Regions from separate parts of the Homo sapiens genome. Here region 1 is linked to region 2. The links come from fine-mapping of genetic effects on plasma protein levels. A gene starts in region 2. The other region holds a variant in brackets. All regions are shown on one strand. Distances are from middle to middle.

The links. PIP is the chance, under the fine-mapping model, that this variant and not a neighbour inherited with it causes the effect. Protein levels are from the aptamer-based SomaScan assay of Sun 2018.
Region 1: its variant is fine-mapped to the plasma level of the TEK protein (Sun 2018, PIP 0.95). The variant lies in the coding sequence of TEK. If it changes the protein, the assay may bind it differently, which can mimic a change of level.

The regions. Positions count from the first base shown.
Region 1 is chr9:27,180,099-27,185,412 of GRCh38, forward strand. TEK (TEK receptor tyrosine kinase) reads left to right here. Exons shown (of 23, transcript NM_000459.5): 7 at 142-270; 8 at 3,361-3,512. Among named protein-coding and RNA genes, the nearest start is that of TEK, 74 kb to the left of the region's middle. The variant A/C (reference allele first, on the strand shown) is at 3,367.
Region 2 is chr9:27,106,098-27,111,483 of GRCh38, forward strand. TEK (TEK receptor tyrosine kinase) reads left to right here and starts at 3,128. Exons shown (of 23, transcript NM_000459.5): 1 at 3,128-3,545. The coding sequence starts at 3,494. LOC124902134 (a long non-coding RNA gene) reads left to right here. Exons shown (of 2, transcript XR_007061440.1): 2 at 1-444.

The DNA.
Region 1 (5,314 bases), 74 kb after region 2:
TAATTCAGATAAATTACCCCCTACCTTACACAAATCAGCAAAGTTGATGGCTTAGAGAGAAAAATAAAACTAAACACCTGCAGTCTTAGTTTCCTCTCTTCCCCTGGATTAATACTGGTTTTTTGATGTCTCTGTTTACAGCATGCCACCCTGGTTTTTACGGGCCAGATTGTAAGCTTAGGTGCAGCTGCAACAATGGGGAGATGTGTGATCGCTTCCAAGGATGTCTCTGCTCTCCAGGATGGCAGGGGCTCCAGTGTGAGAGAGAAGGTAAAGCAAGGTAACACTGTAGTCAGGGCCATGTTCAGCATGTCTGAACTGAGCTTTGGTAGTGTAATTCTTGTGCCGGCATTCTAAGATCCTCAAGCCTCTTTTGTTTCCATCCAGAAGTTGGGAATAGTTTATCCTAAATCCTAAAGCACAGCATTTTAATTCTGCTCTACTGACCCTAATAGTAGGCTTTATTTGTCTTTGCACTAGGCATAAACCACGTGCTCTTTGTAGCAGCTTAAGTGATGACTGGCCAGCTGAGAGCTCTCCTACCTTTTCTGCTCCCTTCTCTAGGACCAACCTTTTCCCTGGACATGCGTAACAGAGAAAGAGCAATTTGGGATGGATTTAGACAGGGGATATTTTTAAAGCAATAGAAAGAATAAAACAAATAGAAAAGATTATGCTCAAAATGAAATTTTATGTCATTCTAGTTCAGAAGTTACTCTTCAGCAGGAGTCAGCAAACTTTAACCCACAGACTAAATCCAGCCCACTATCTTTTTTTAAACAGCTTTATAGAGATACATTTTTTATATTATAATGTTCAACTTTTTAAAATGTAAATTCAGTGGTTTTTAGTATATTTACAGAGCTATGCCATCATTGCCATAATCTAATTTTACAACATATTCATCATACCAAAACAAACCTTGTACCCATTAATAGAAACTTCCATTTTCCAATCATCCTAATTTCTGACAACCATTTATTTGCAGTTGACCTTAAACAACATGGGGGCTAGGGGTACTGACCCTTCTCGCAGTAGAAAATCTACATATAATTTTTGACTCTCCAAAGACTTAACTACTAATAGCCTTCTGTTGACGAGAAGCCTTACCAATAACATAGTCAATTAACACAGAGACTAGTATCTGTATATATTTTATGCCTTCATGACATACCTTTTTCTTAATTTTTTTGGTATTTCTAGGCTACACAGTTTGTCTGTGAGTTTTTTCAAATTATCCTAAATCTCCAAAAAATTTTCCAATATATTTATTGAAAAAAATCCACATGTCAGTGGACCCATGCAGTTGAAGCCTGTATTGTTCAAGGGTCAACCATATCTTCTGTCTCTGTAGATTGCCTGTTCTTGACATTTTATATGCTGTAAACAAGATTGTATAATACGTCGTCATTTGTGACTAGCTTCATTTGCCACACCTTTTTTGAGGTTTATCTATGTTGTGGCATGTATCAGTACTTCATTCCTTTTTTATTTCTCACCATCTGTTATTATAAAGAAAAAAATTTTGGATCACAGCCACCTCCATTCATTTATAGTATGTCGTCTGTGGCTGCTTTTGTACTACAAGGGCAGAAAACATGGCTTGCAAAGCTGACTGTATTTGCTCTCTTTACAGAAAATGTTTGCTATCCACTGTCGTAGAATATACTTTTTAAAATTAAAAGAAGCAGACATATGTATTTTCAAACTTAATAAATATGTATTGCTTTTTCAATCATATAAATATAAATGCCATTGAAATAAATACATATCCAGTGAAATCTACACTCACAATAATACAGCTATGGCCTTTTTTTCTGTTACTTTTGGAAATCAGAACAAATATTGGGAGTGGGGGTGGGATGCCAGTAAGTGTTTTCTCAAAGTCCTTAAACTTTATATTTTTTCTTCTTTTGCCAAGCCTGGACTTTACTACAGGGCAGGAATCAGGGAGTGGTTAGAAAGGGAAGGAAATGCCATGGGGCTACTAGGGGATTGTATTGAACGTGGGCAGCTAACAAGTTTAAGGATTTGAATTTTGTGCTTTGTTCCTTCCCGTCTGTTCCCTTCTGCTGATGCTGCAAAAGGAGTGCATTCTGATGGGAGAATCTAAGACAGGTTAACCAGGGTGTCACTAGGGCTTTCAGAGAGTAGCTCCCTTCCCAGATTCCACTTTAGCCCAGCACATCCACCTTCACCCCCACCCAGCTTCAGAAAATACAAGGGGACGATGAAGGAAAGAAATGCTTTAAAAGTGTCAAAACATGTTTTTCAATTCCTATTCAAATAGCTACTTAGGCTGAAAAACTTGGCACGTTTTCCATAATCTTTCCAAGTTTACAGATATATCAAGGAATAACCTTGTAAGTATTAGACCTCTTTCCCTTCTCCTCCACACCTTTACCCATTTCATTCTAGGCCTGAGAAGTAGGATATCAGTATAAAATATCATTATTGACCCCGCCTCTTCCCACCACCGATAAGAAACAGTCTGTAGTTACTGCTGCTCTGAGGGCACCTCTATCGCCTACATTGTTTACTGAGTGTTGGACAATTTTCAAACATGTCTCACATTCAATTACAAATAGTCCACAGTTCCCTGAGTCCCTATGGTTCAGAATAAAATTGGTATATTTCAGGGTTATTCATTCTCTACTGTGTAGATGTTAGGCAAGAAATCCTGACACCATTACCTTTATTGACACTACAGACATTTTTCCTTCTTTCAATATTGGCAGCAACATTTTTGATTTGGCTGTTGAGTGGATACTGATTTGGGGAAGTTATATTTCACTTCTTTGATGTACTTCTTTTGTGAGCAACTTTATTCACCTTTTCCTCTTAGTTATCTGCTATTTGCAGACTTCCCAATGAATGAGACATCTCTCGTATATCTAAACTGAGGTCAATGCTGTTGAACAGCAATACCATGGGGTTATTTGATGAGTGGAGGAAGAACTAGTTTTTTGTTTGTTGTATTTTTGTAATCATTCATGTAAAAAGAAAGAGGGGGATTGAACAGCAAAGTCTAGGGGAGATATGGCCATGATAATCATTTTAATATTGAGACTGTTCCTCCCTGGTCCATGAAAGGAGCACAGCCTCATGGCAAAGAGCGTGGACTCTGGATTTATAAAGATCTGAGTCTGAATCTGGGCTGTGAGCCTCTGTCTCCTCATCCATAAAATGGGAGACCACAATATCATCCACATCACAGGTGTCTTATGTGATGACAAAACAGTAAAATATTTGCAAAGTTCTTGCCCGGTGCATGACTTACTAAAGTAGCTATTTTTATTATTACTACTGCTGCTGGCTCTGTTAAATATTAGATTTCACAGTGCTGTTTTCTTCCTTCAGGCATAC[A/C]GAGGATGACCCCAAAGATAGTGGATTTGCCAGATCATATAGAAGTAAACAGTGGTAAATTTAATCCCATTTGCAAAGCTTCTGGCTGGCCGCTACCTACTAATGAAGAAATGACCCTGGTGAAGCCGGATGGGACAGTGCTCCATGTAAGAGCCATTCTTAATTTGCCCTTCTTAAAGCATGAGATGCTTCAGTGTAGTAATCACCCCACTAAATGATAGATACCATTCAGTGCTTTTATCCTCCTAGGCTAGTGTGTTGTTGGCTTTGATAAAATGCCCTATTCCTGGAGAGGCAGAACTGACTCACTGCAGCCTCACTGATTTCTTCTGTTGGCCAGTACTGCTCTGCATGGTTGGGAATATGCCTCCTGGGGAACTGACAGAGCTGGGTGCCAAGGATGGCACACATCCTGCAGGACTGTCCAGCTGGTATGGGGAGAAGTACGTGTCAATCTGTGCAAAGCTTTGCTCTCGCAGTGTCCCCATATCTCTAACTACTCATATCAGGAGAGTAAGGTGGTGTTGCAACCCATGAATCAGCAGATTTACGTGCTACCAAGTGCAACCAGGACATGGAGTTTTGATGACCGGTCCACTCCTATTACGCTCTTTGGAGCAGCAGTTTAGGGGAGCATAGAAGAGGAGAGTTCCCCAGTTCTGAAACTACAATCCACGGGATCCCTTAGGTCTGAATGCATTCATTGGGTTTCTACCCACCTCTTCCCTTTGCCTTCATTGCTGATGCTCACCCATGGTCAGGTAATATCACAGCAGTTATTTTTTGTTTAAAAGGATCAAGCTACTTTTCGAACATGCTTTCCTTCTCTCTCCCAACTATACCAAATGCAGCAGAGACAGGAGCCACCCCAAATTTCTCTTGTGTTGAAAGTGATCCTTAGGATATTGATGTATTTTTTAATCTAAAAATTTAGAAATACTTATTATCCTATTTTTCTATCAAAGATGACCAAAATCAGCTTGACCAGAGGCAGGTATGAGTGACCTTCTGAGGGAGGAATATGTAGAATGTACCATTACTAGGGTCCACGTTTCAATGTCCCTGATTCCACTCAAACAACCCATCAGGTAGAAGAAGCCAATTGATGGCTTCCAAAATCTTATTGGCTTTTTCATGAGTTAATGAAAGTAATGGCTACTATTTAGTAAGGTTGGCCATAACTATATGTAACTTCTTACTTAACATTGCCTAGTGTCTCTTTTTTTTGGCGGAAGTGGGAACTGGCTGGGTGAAGTTAAGTAACTAAGGAATTGGTCAAAAATGGCAAAGAGGCCAGATACGGTGACTCATGCCTGCAATCCCAGTGCTTTGGAAGCCTGAGGTGGGAGGATCACTTTAGGCCAGAAATTTGAGACCGGCCTGGGCAACATAGCAAGACCCCATCTCTTAAAAAATAAAAAAAGAATTAGCTGGACATGGTGGCATATACCTGTAGTCCCAGCTACTTGGGTGAGGTGGGGGGATCACTTAAGGCCAGGAGTTTGAGGCTGCAGTGAACTATGATCACTCAACTGCACTCCAGCCTGAGCCAAGGAACAAGACTTTGTTGTCTCTCAAAAAAAAAAAAATGGCAGAGGTCCATCTCTCTTCAGAACCCTGGATTTTTCCAGTACTCCCCACTTGACAGCCTCTCAAACACTTAGGAAGTCACTTTGTCCTCCCACGCAGCCATCTCTGTGTTAGATAGGAAAGGAACAAATCTTATGAGGAGGAGTTTAAAAGAAATCATGCTTCAGGTGTCTTGCTTGTAAGTGTTTACCCCGTACTCCTAAACACACAAATACAACAGCAGGATCTGACAGGGCATCAATCCAAAATAAACTTTCAGGGCTACTACAATAGCTTTGGAAATAAGCCAATAATTATATTAGCATTACATTTAGCTTCTTGATCTCTCCTAGGAAACTTCTTATTAAACAATGAGATG
Region 2 (5,386 bases):
GTGGGATTGCTGGGTCATATGGTAGCCTGGATTCTGTTTCTTATTTGCCAGTGGATGTTTTAAAGTATACATCCTATTGCCCTGGGTCAACTTTCTCAAGGACGTCCCCTCAGTCTTCTTCATTTTTACATATATGTTCGTTATTTCTAAAAGTGTTAAAATTATAGAAAAGTATAAAAAAGAAAATAAAAATTATGTTTTCCAACAACTCAGAAATAGTCACTTTCAACGCTTTGATATTTATTTGTTGTATATCTGTGGTGTGTATTTCAGTGTGTATAAATTTCATTCTGTTTAAATTGTGTTTTTTTCCCAATCAACAGTATACCATAAACATTTTCACATCTTTTTATGTCAATCTGATTTCACCATAGTATTTGAACACTTGTCTGGAACTTCATTGTATACCATGATTTTTAATAAATAATCCATTTTTGTTGACCATTTTGATTATTTCTAGGCTTTGATTATTATCAACTATGCTTCTATAATGTCCTTATACACAAATTTGGGGGCACATATTTGATTTTGGCTTGGTGTATATCATAAAAATGGATTTTCTGGTGGGGCGCAGTGGCTTACACCTGTAATCCCAGCACTTTGGGAGGCCAAGGGGGGGGGGGGGTGGATCATGAGGTTAGGAGTTCAAGACCATCCTGGCCAATATGGTGAAACCCCATCTCTACTAAAAAGTATAAAAATTAGCCGGGTGTGGTGGTGCACGCCTGTAATTCCAGCTACTCAGGAGGCTGAGGCAGGAGAATCGCTTGAACCCAGGAGGCGGACGTTGCAGTGAGCCGAGATAGTGCCACTGCACTCCAGCCTGGGCGACAGAGTGAGACTCTATTTCAAAAAAAAAAAAAACTGGATTTTCTGGGCCAAAGGGTATGCATACAAGGCTTTTGCTTTGTGTTTGTGATGTTGACCTCTTGACATGTGATACCAGTGTATAGTAGTATTATGTAAGTTATTTTCCACCTCTTTCAGAAAAACCGTTTTGTTATCTATTGATACCTTTGTTAATTAGTCTCAAAGACTTTTAATGTTGTCTATAGTGTTTTTCATGTATTGAGTGCAAAAAGCAGGAAATAGAAAATGAAGAATCAGCCAAGAGCCTTGTTTGTTTGTTTAGTTTGGTTTGGTTTTCTTTATGCTTTTACTGTAGGTATGTCTGGAAAAATCAAATTAAATGGAATGAGCTTGACTCATGAGGAGGCCCCTTTCATTTTCCTGAAGTGAATTAATACAGCACCCACCGATCCTGACATTAGTTATTTCAGAAGCACACTAAGAACTGACCGCACTTCTCAGTGTCACCAAACTATTCTTATCTGTCAAAGTTTCATTTCAAATACTTCTGTAAGGTCTAGGTGTACCCTGCTGGTGTTTGTGATGTCCTACATTACTCTTGATCTACTTTTCAACTATGAAACAAGGGAAAAATTGGAGGTCCAGAGCTCAGGATTCAGATATTATTACCTCTGCTACTCACAGCAGAGCAAGTAACTTAGCCTGTGTGGAACTTCATTTTTCTTTCTTTTTTTTCTTTTTTTTTTTTTTTTTTTTAGACAGAGTCTTGCTCTGTCACCCAGGCTGGAGTGCAGTGGCACGATCTCGGCTCACTGCAACCTCTGCCTCCCAGGTTCAAACAATTCTCCTGCCTCAGCCTCCAGAGTAGCTGGGGTTACAGGTGCACGCCAGCAAGCACAGCTAAATTTTGTATTTTTAGTAGAGATGGGGTTTTGCCATGTTGGCCAGGCTGGTCTCAAACTCCTGACCTCAGGTGATCCACTCCCAAAGTGCTGGGATTATAGGCGTGAGCCACTGTGCCAGGCCCACTGTTTTTGTTTTTTTTTTTCGTGATGACAAATTTAAAGTCATCTCATAGGAATAGAAAATAGCTTTTTAGTAGAAGCTCTTGGAATTTAAATTGAGACTGAATGGAAAGATGAAAGAAAATAAACTTATTAACATTTAATGAGAACCTTCAAAGAACTAGGCATAGTACCAAATGGTTTTATATTTTTAAACCTCATTTATTCCTCTCAAAACACCTGGGAAGGAGATATTTTTGCCATTTCACAGCTGTTGAAACTGAGGCTCAAAAAGACTAAGTAACTTTTCTCAGCTACACATGTGGCTGAGCCAGTATTTGAACCCAGTTCTGTTTGCAGACAGAACCTGGGCTTTTTCACACCTGCAAACTGGAAACATTAATTGGTTCTTAAGATCATCATCGATGTGATAAAACCTGGGACAGAAATTAGTCAAGACTAGCTGCATCTGCCTTTTCCTCTGGTGGGTAGGAAAAGGAGGAGTATAATGATTTCCTCAGGCATGAAGGTCGATGATGAGCAAAGTGTATACTCTCTAATCTAATGTCATAATTCATATTGTGGAGTAATTATCTGGATAAGTGTAGGGTCTCTGACCTCATTCTAGATATTGTACATTCCATGGCTATTTTCATTTTGGTCCATGAACTCTCTTTGCTCTCATGAGCACCATTTTTATCCCAATCTAATCCTGTATGTTTGTGTTTTTACACAGATTAGTTTTTAAATGTTATATATAATTTGCTTCTGAAACACCATTGCTCAATGACTACCAAATCTTTCTCATTACCAAAATCCTTCTATGCCAACTTCTTCAAGAAATTTGATCACCTTTAGATGAATTGTTAATGAAAATTAAAGCTATAGCCGGCAACATGGGTATCTTTGGGCTAATGGCCAACCAACAGGCCATCTGTGTGAAAGAAAACAGGCTAACAATTTTGGACTCTGGTCTCTTGGGGCTACATTGAGCATTGACCTCACCGGTGCTCACTGAAATTAATTGCTTTTCAGGTTGTATTTTCTCATCACGGAAACCTTCTTCTCCCAATTCAAACCATGTGGGTTAAAATGAGAAAACAAAAGCCAAAACGGCTTCCCACACCCAAAAGCTCCTTCTGTCAGAGATCCCAGTAGCCCCGGGAGAGCTGTTAGAAGTCTGAGAAGGATTGGTCATCATCGCATACCATACATAGGTGGAGGGCTTGTTATTCTCAGTTTCCCGCCTATGAGAGGATACCCCTATTGTTTCTGAAAATGCTGACCGGGACCCACACTTCCAACAAAAATTCCTCTGCCCCTACAGCAGCAGCAAAAGCAGCAGCAGAAGCAACAGCAACAGATAAGTGTTTTGATGAATTGCGAGATGGATAGGGCTTGAGTGCCCCCAGCCCTGCTGATACCAAATGCCTTTAAGATACAGCCTTTCCCATCCTAATCTACAAAGGAAACAGGAAAAAGGAACTTAAAACTCCCTGTGCTCAGACAGAAATGAGACTGTTACAGCCTGCTTCTGTGCTGTTCCTTCTTGCCTCTAACTTGTAAACAAGACGTAGTAGGACGATGCTAATGGAAAGTCACAAACCGCTGGGTTTTTGAAAGGATCCTTGGGACCTCATGCACATTTGTGGAAACTGGATGGAGAGATTTGGGGAAGCATGGACTCTTTAGCCAGCTTAGTTCTCTGTGGAGTCAGCTTGCTCCTTTCTGGTAAGGTTTGGCTTTATTTTTTTTAATTTAGTATTTTAAAAAACAGAGTTAGTGATTTCTGGGTGCTCTCCCCAAATCTCATCAGTGCTGATGAACAAGGGGTGGCTGTAGCAAAGGCACCATTTCTCTGTGAGTCTCCAGTCAATATGTGTGGAAGGATTGAAATGCAAAGGCTCTGTGGCATGAACTGATTTTGCTAGTTTGTCTTCTGGGTGATTGGCCCCTGTGTTAGAAACTCTTTGAGGACCGATTAAATCATCTTATTTGAAGAGATCCCCTTACTATCATGCATTATTTTCCTGCTCCTCATTCTGGAGTGTTTTTCTTATTGATTTTTTTTTTAAAGAACAAACCGGTTTTACCTGCTTTAAAGAAAATCTTCAGTAAAAAATGAAATTCATGCTGAGAAATACAGGGGCCCAATTAAGGCAGTGTATAGATTGTCACTGTTAAAAGGGAACAAAGATGCTTTTCTGTAAAAAGATTTTATATCTACATCCTATTTTAAGCAAAGCAATGAAATTGTAGGCTTTTTTTTTTTTCTTGTAGTTAGGGTCAGGGAGATTGGGGCTATTAGAATTTTTGTTTTATTTTAAAAAATGTTTGCCATGTAGTAATTCATAAAGGGTTTACTGGCCCAATGAAACAAAAATTTAGGCAGTTACCAAAATCTTTAACACAGGAGAGTATATGAAGCCTGTTGTAGAGTGAAGGAGTGGTTGGCCAGTGTGTTGGGTTCAGCGTGTTTATTGCTTAGATACTCCAGATAGTGGTGTGCCTCTGTAGCTCACTCAGCCTATGTGACATAGGTAGAAGGCAGTATCCAAACCTGAACTACATATCACAAATACATTTATCATTGCCATCAGTCTCTCCCCTTCGGTTTGAAAACATTCTAATTTTAATAACGAAAATCGAATTGATATTGGAGATGAATTTGGGAAAATTCACTAAACTTCATGGATATAGGGCATATTAATATAATTTGATTCGAGTATACATAAGTATCTGCTATATTTTCTAGGTGTTTGAACTATTTTATTAAATATTCAAAAAACAAATCCAATGAAATAACTGAGTTGAATACAGTTTGTTTTATAGCTCTCAACAACCAATATTTTGAGAATTTAATAATATTCTTTAAGAATGTGTAACACAAGTTGCTAAAAATTAAAAGATTTTAGGTGGCTTCAGTATTTATGTGGAAATTGTTTAAATAATGTTGACTTCTCCAATAATATGTACTTCAAATAATTATCATGATTCCATTTTTGATTTTTTTTTTTCTGAGTGCCATTATTTACCAGTGACATGAAATCTGGAACTTACTCTATACCAGGGATTATAGTGATGTGAAGCCCAGGTGTCTATAGTTTCTCTGAGGTACTTTGTAGGTTAATACACACACAACTGTTTTCATTCACTTTTTTTACTCCTAAAGCAACTGTGTTATAGCACTTTGCAATACAGGCTTAGAAGAATTGTCATAAAATCAAACAAAAAGGTATGTAGCCAAAATACTTGTTCCATGTCTAGACCTCAGATCCCTGGAAAAAACAGCACTGCCTTTAAAAGGCAGAGGACCAAGGAGAGGAAGTAGGTTCATGTTCTTGTTAGGAAGGGTGACACTAGCAAGGTTAGTTTCTGAGGTAGGTCTGTTGTCTTGATCGTAGCTTGCATTCCTAGTCTAAGCCTCCATGAGCATGACTGCTCAAGGCTTGATAATTGCAACAAGAATCCAGCTAGATAATGTCCACAGCCATAGGAGCCCGTTCCTCTAGTCAAACTCCTGGTAGACTAAAGCAGTGGAGCAAGGGGCTTATGGCTTAAAGGTTTATCTC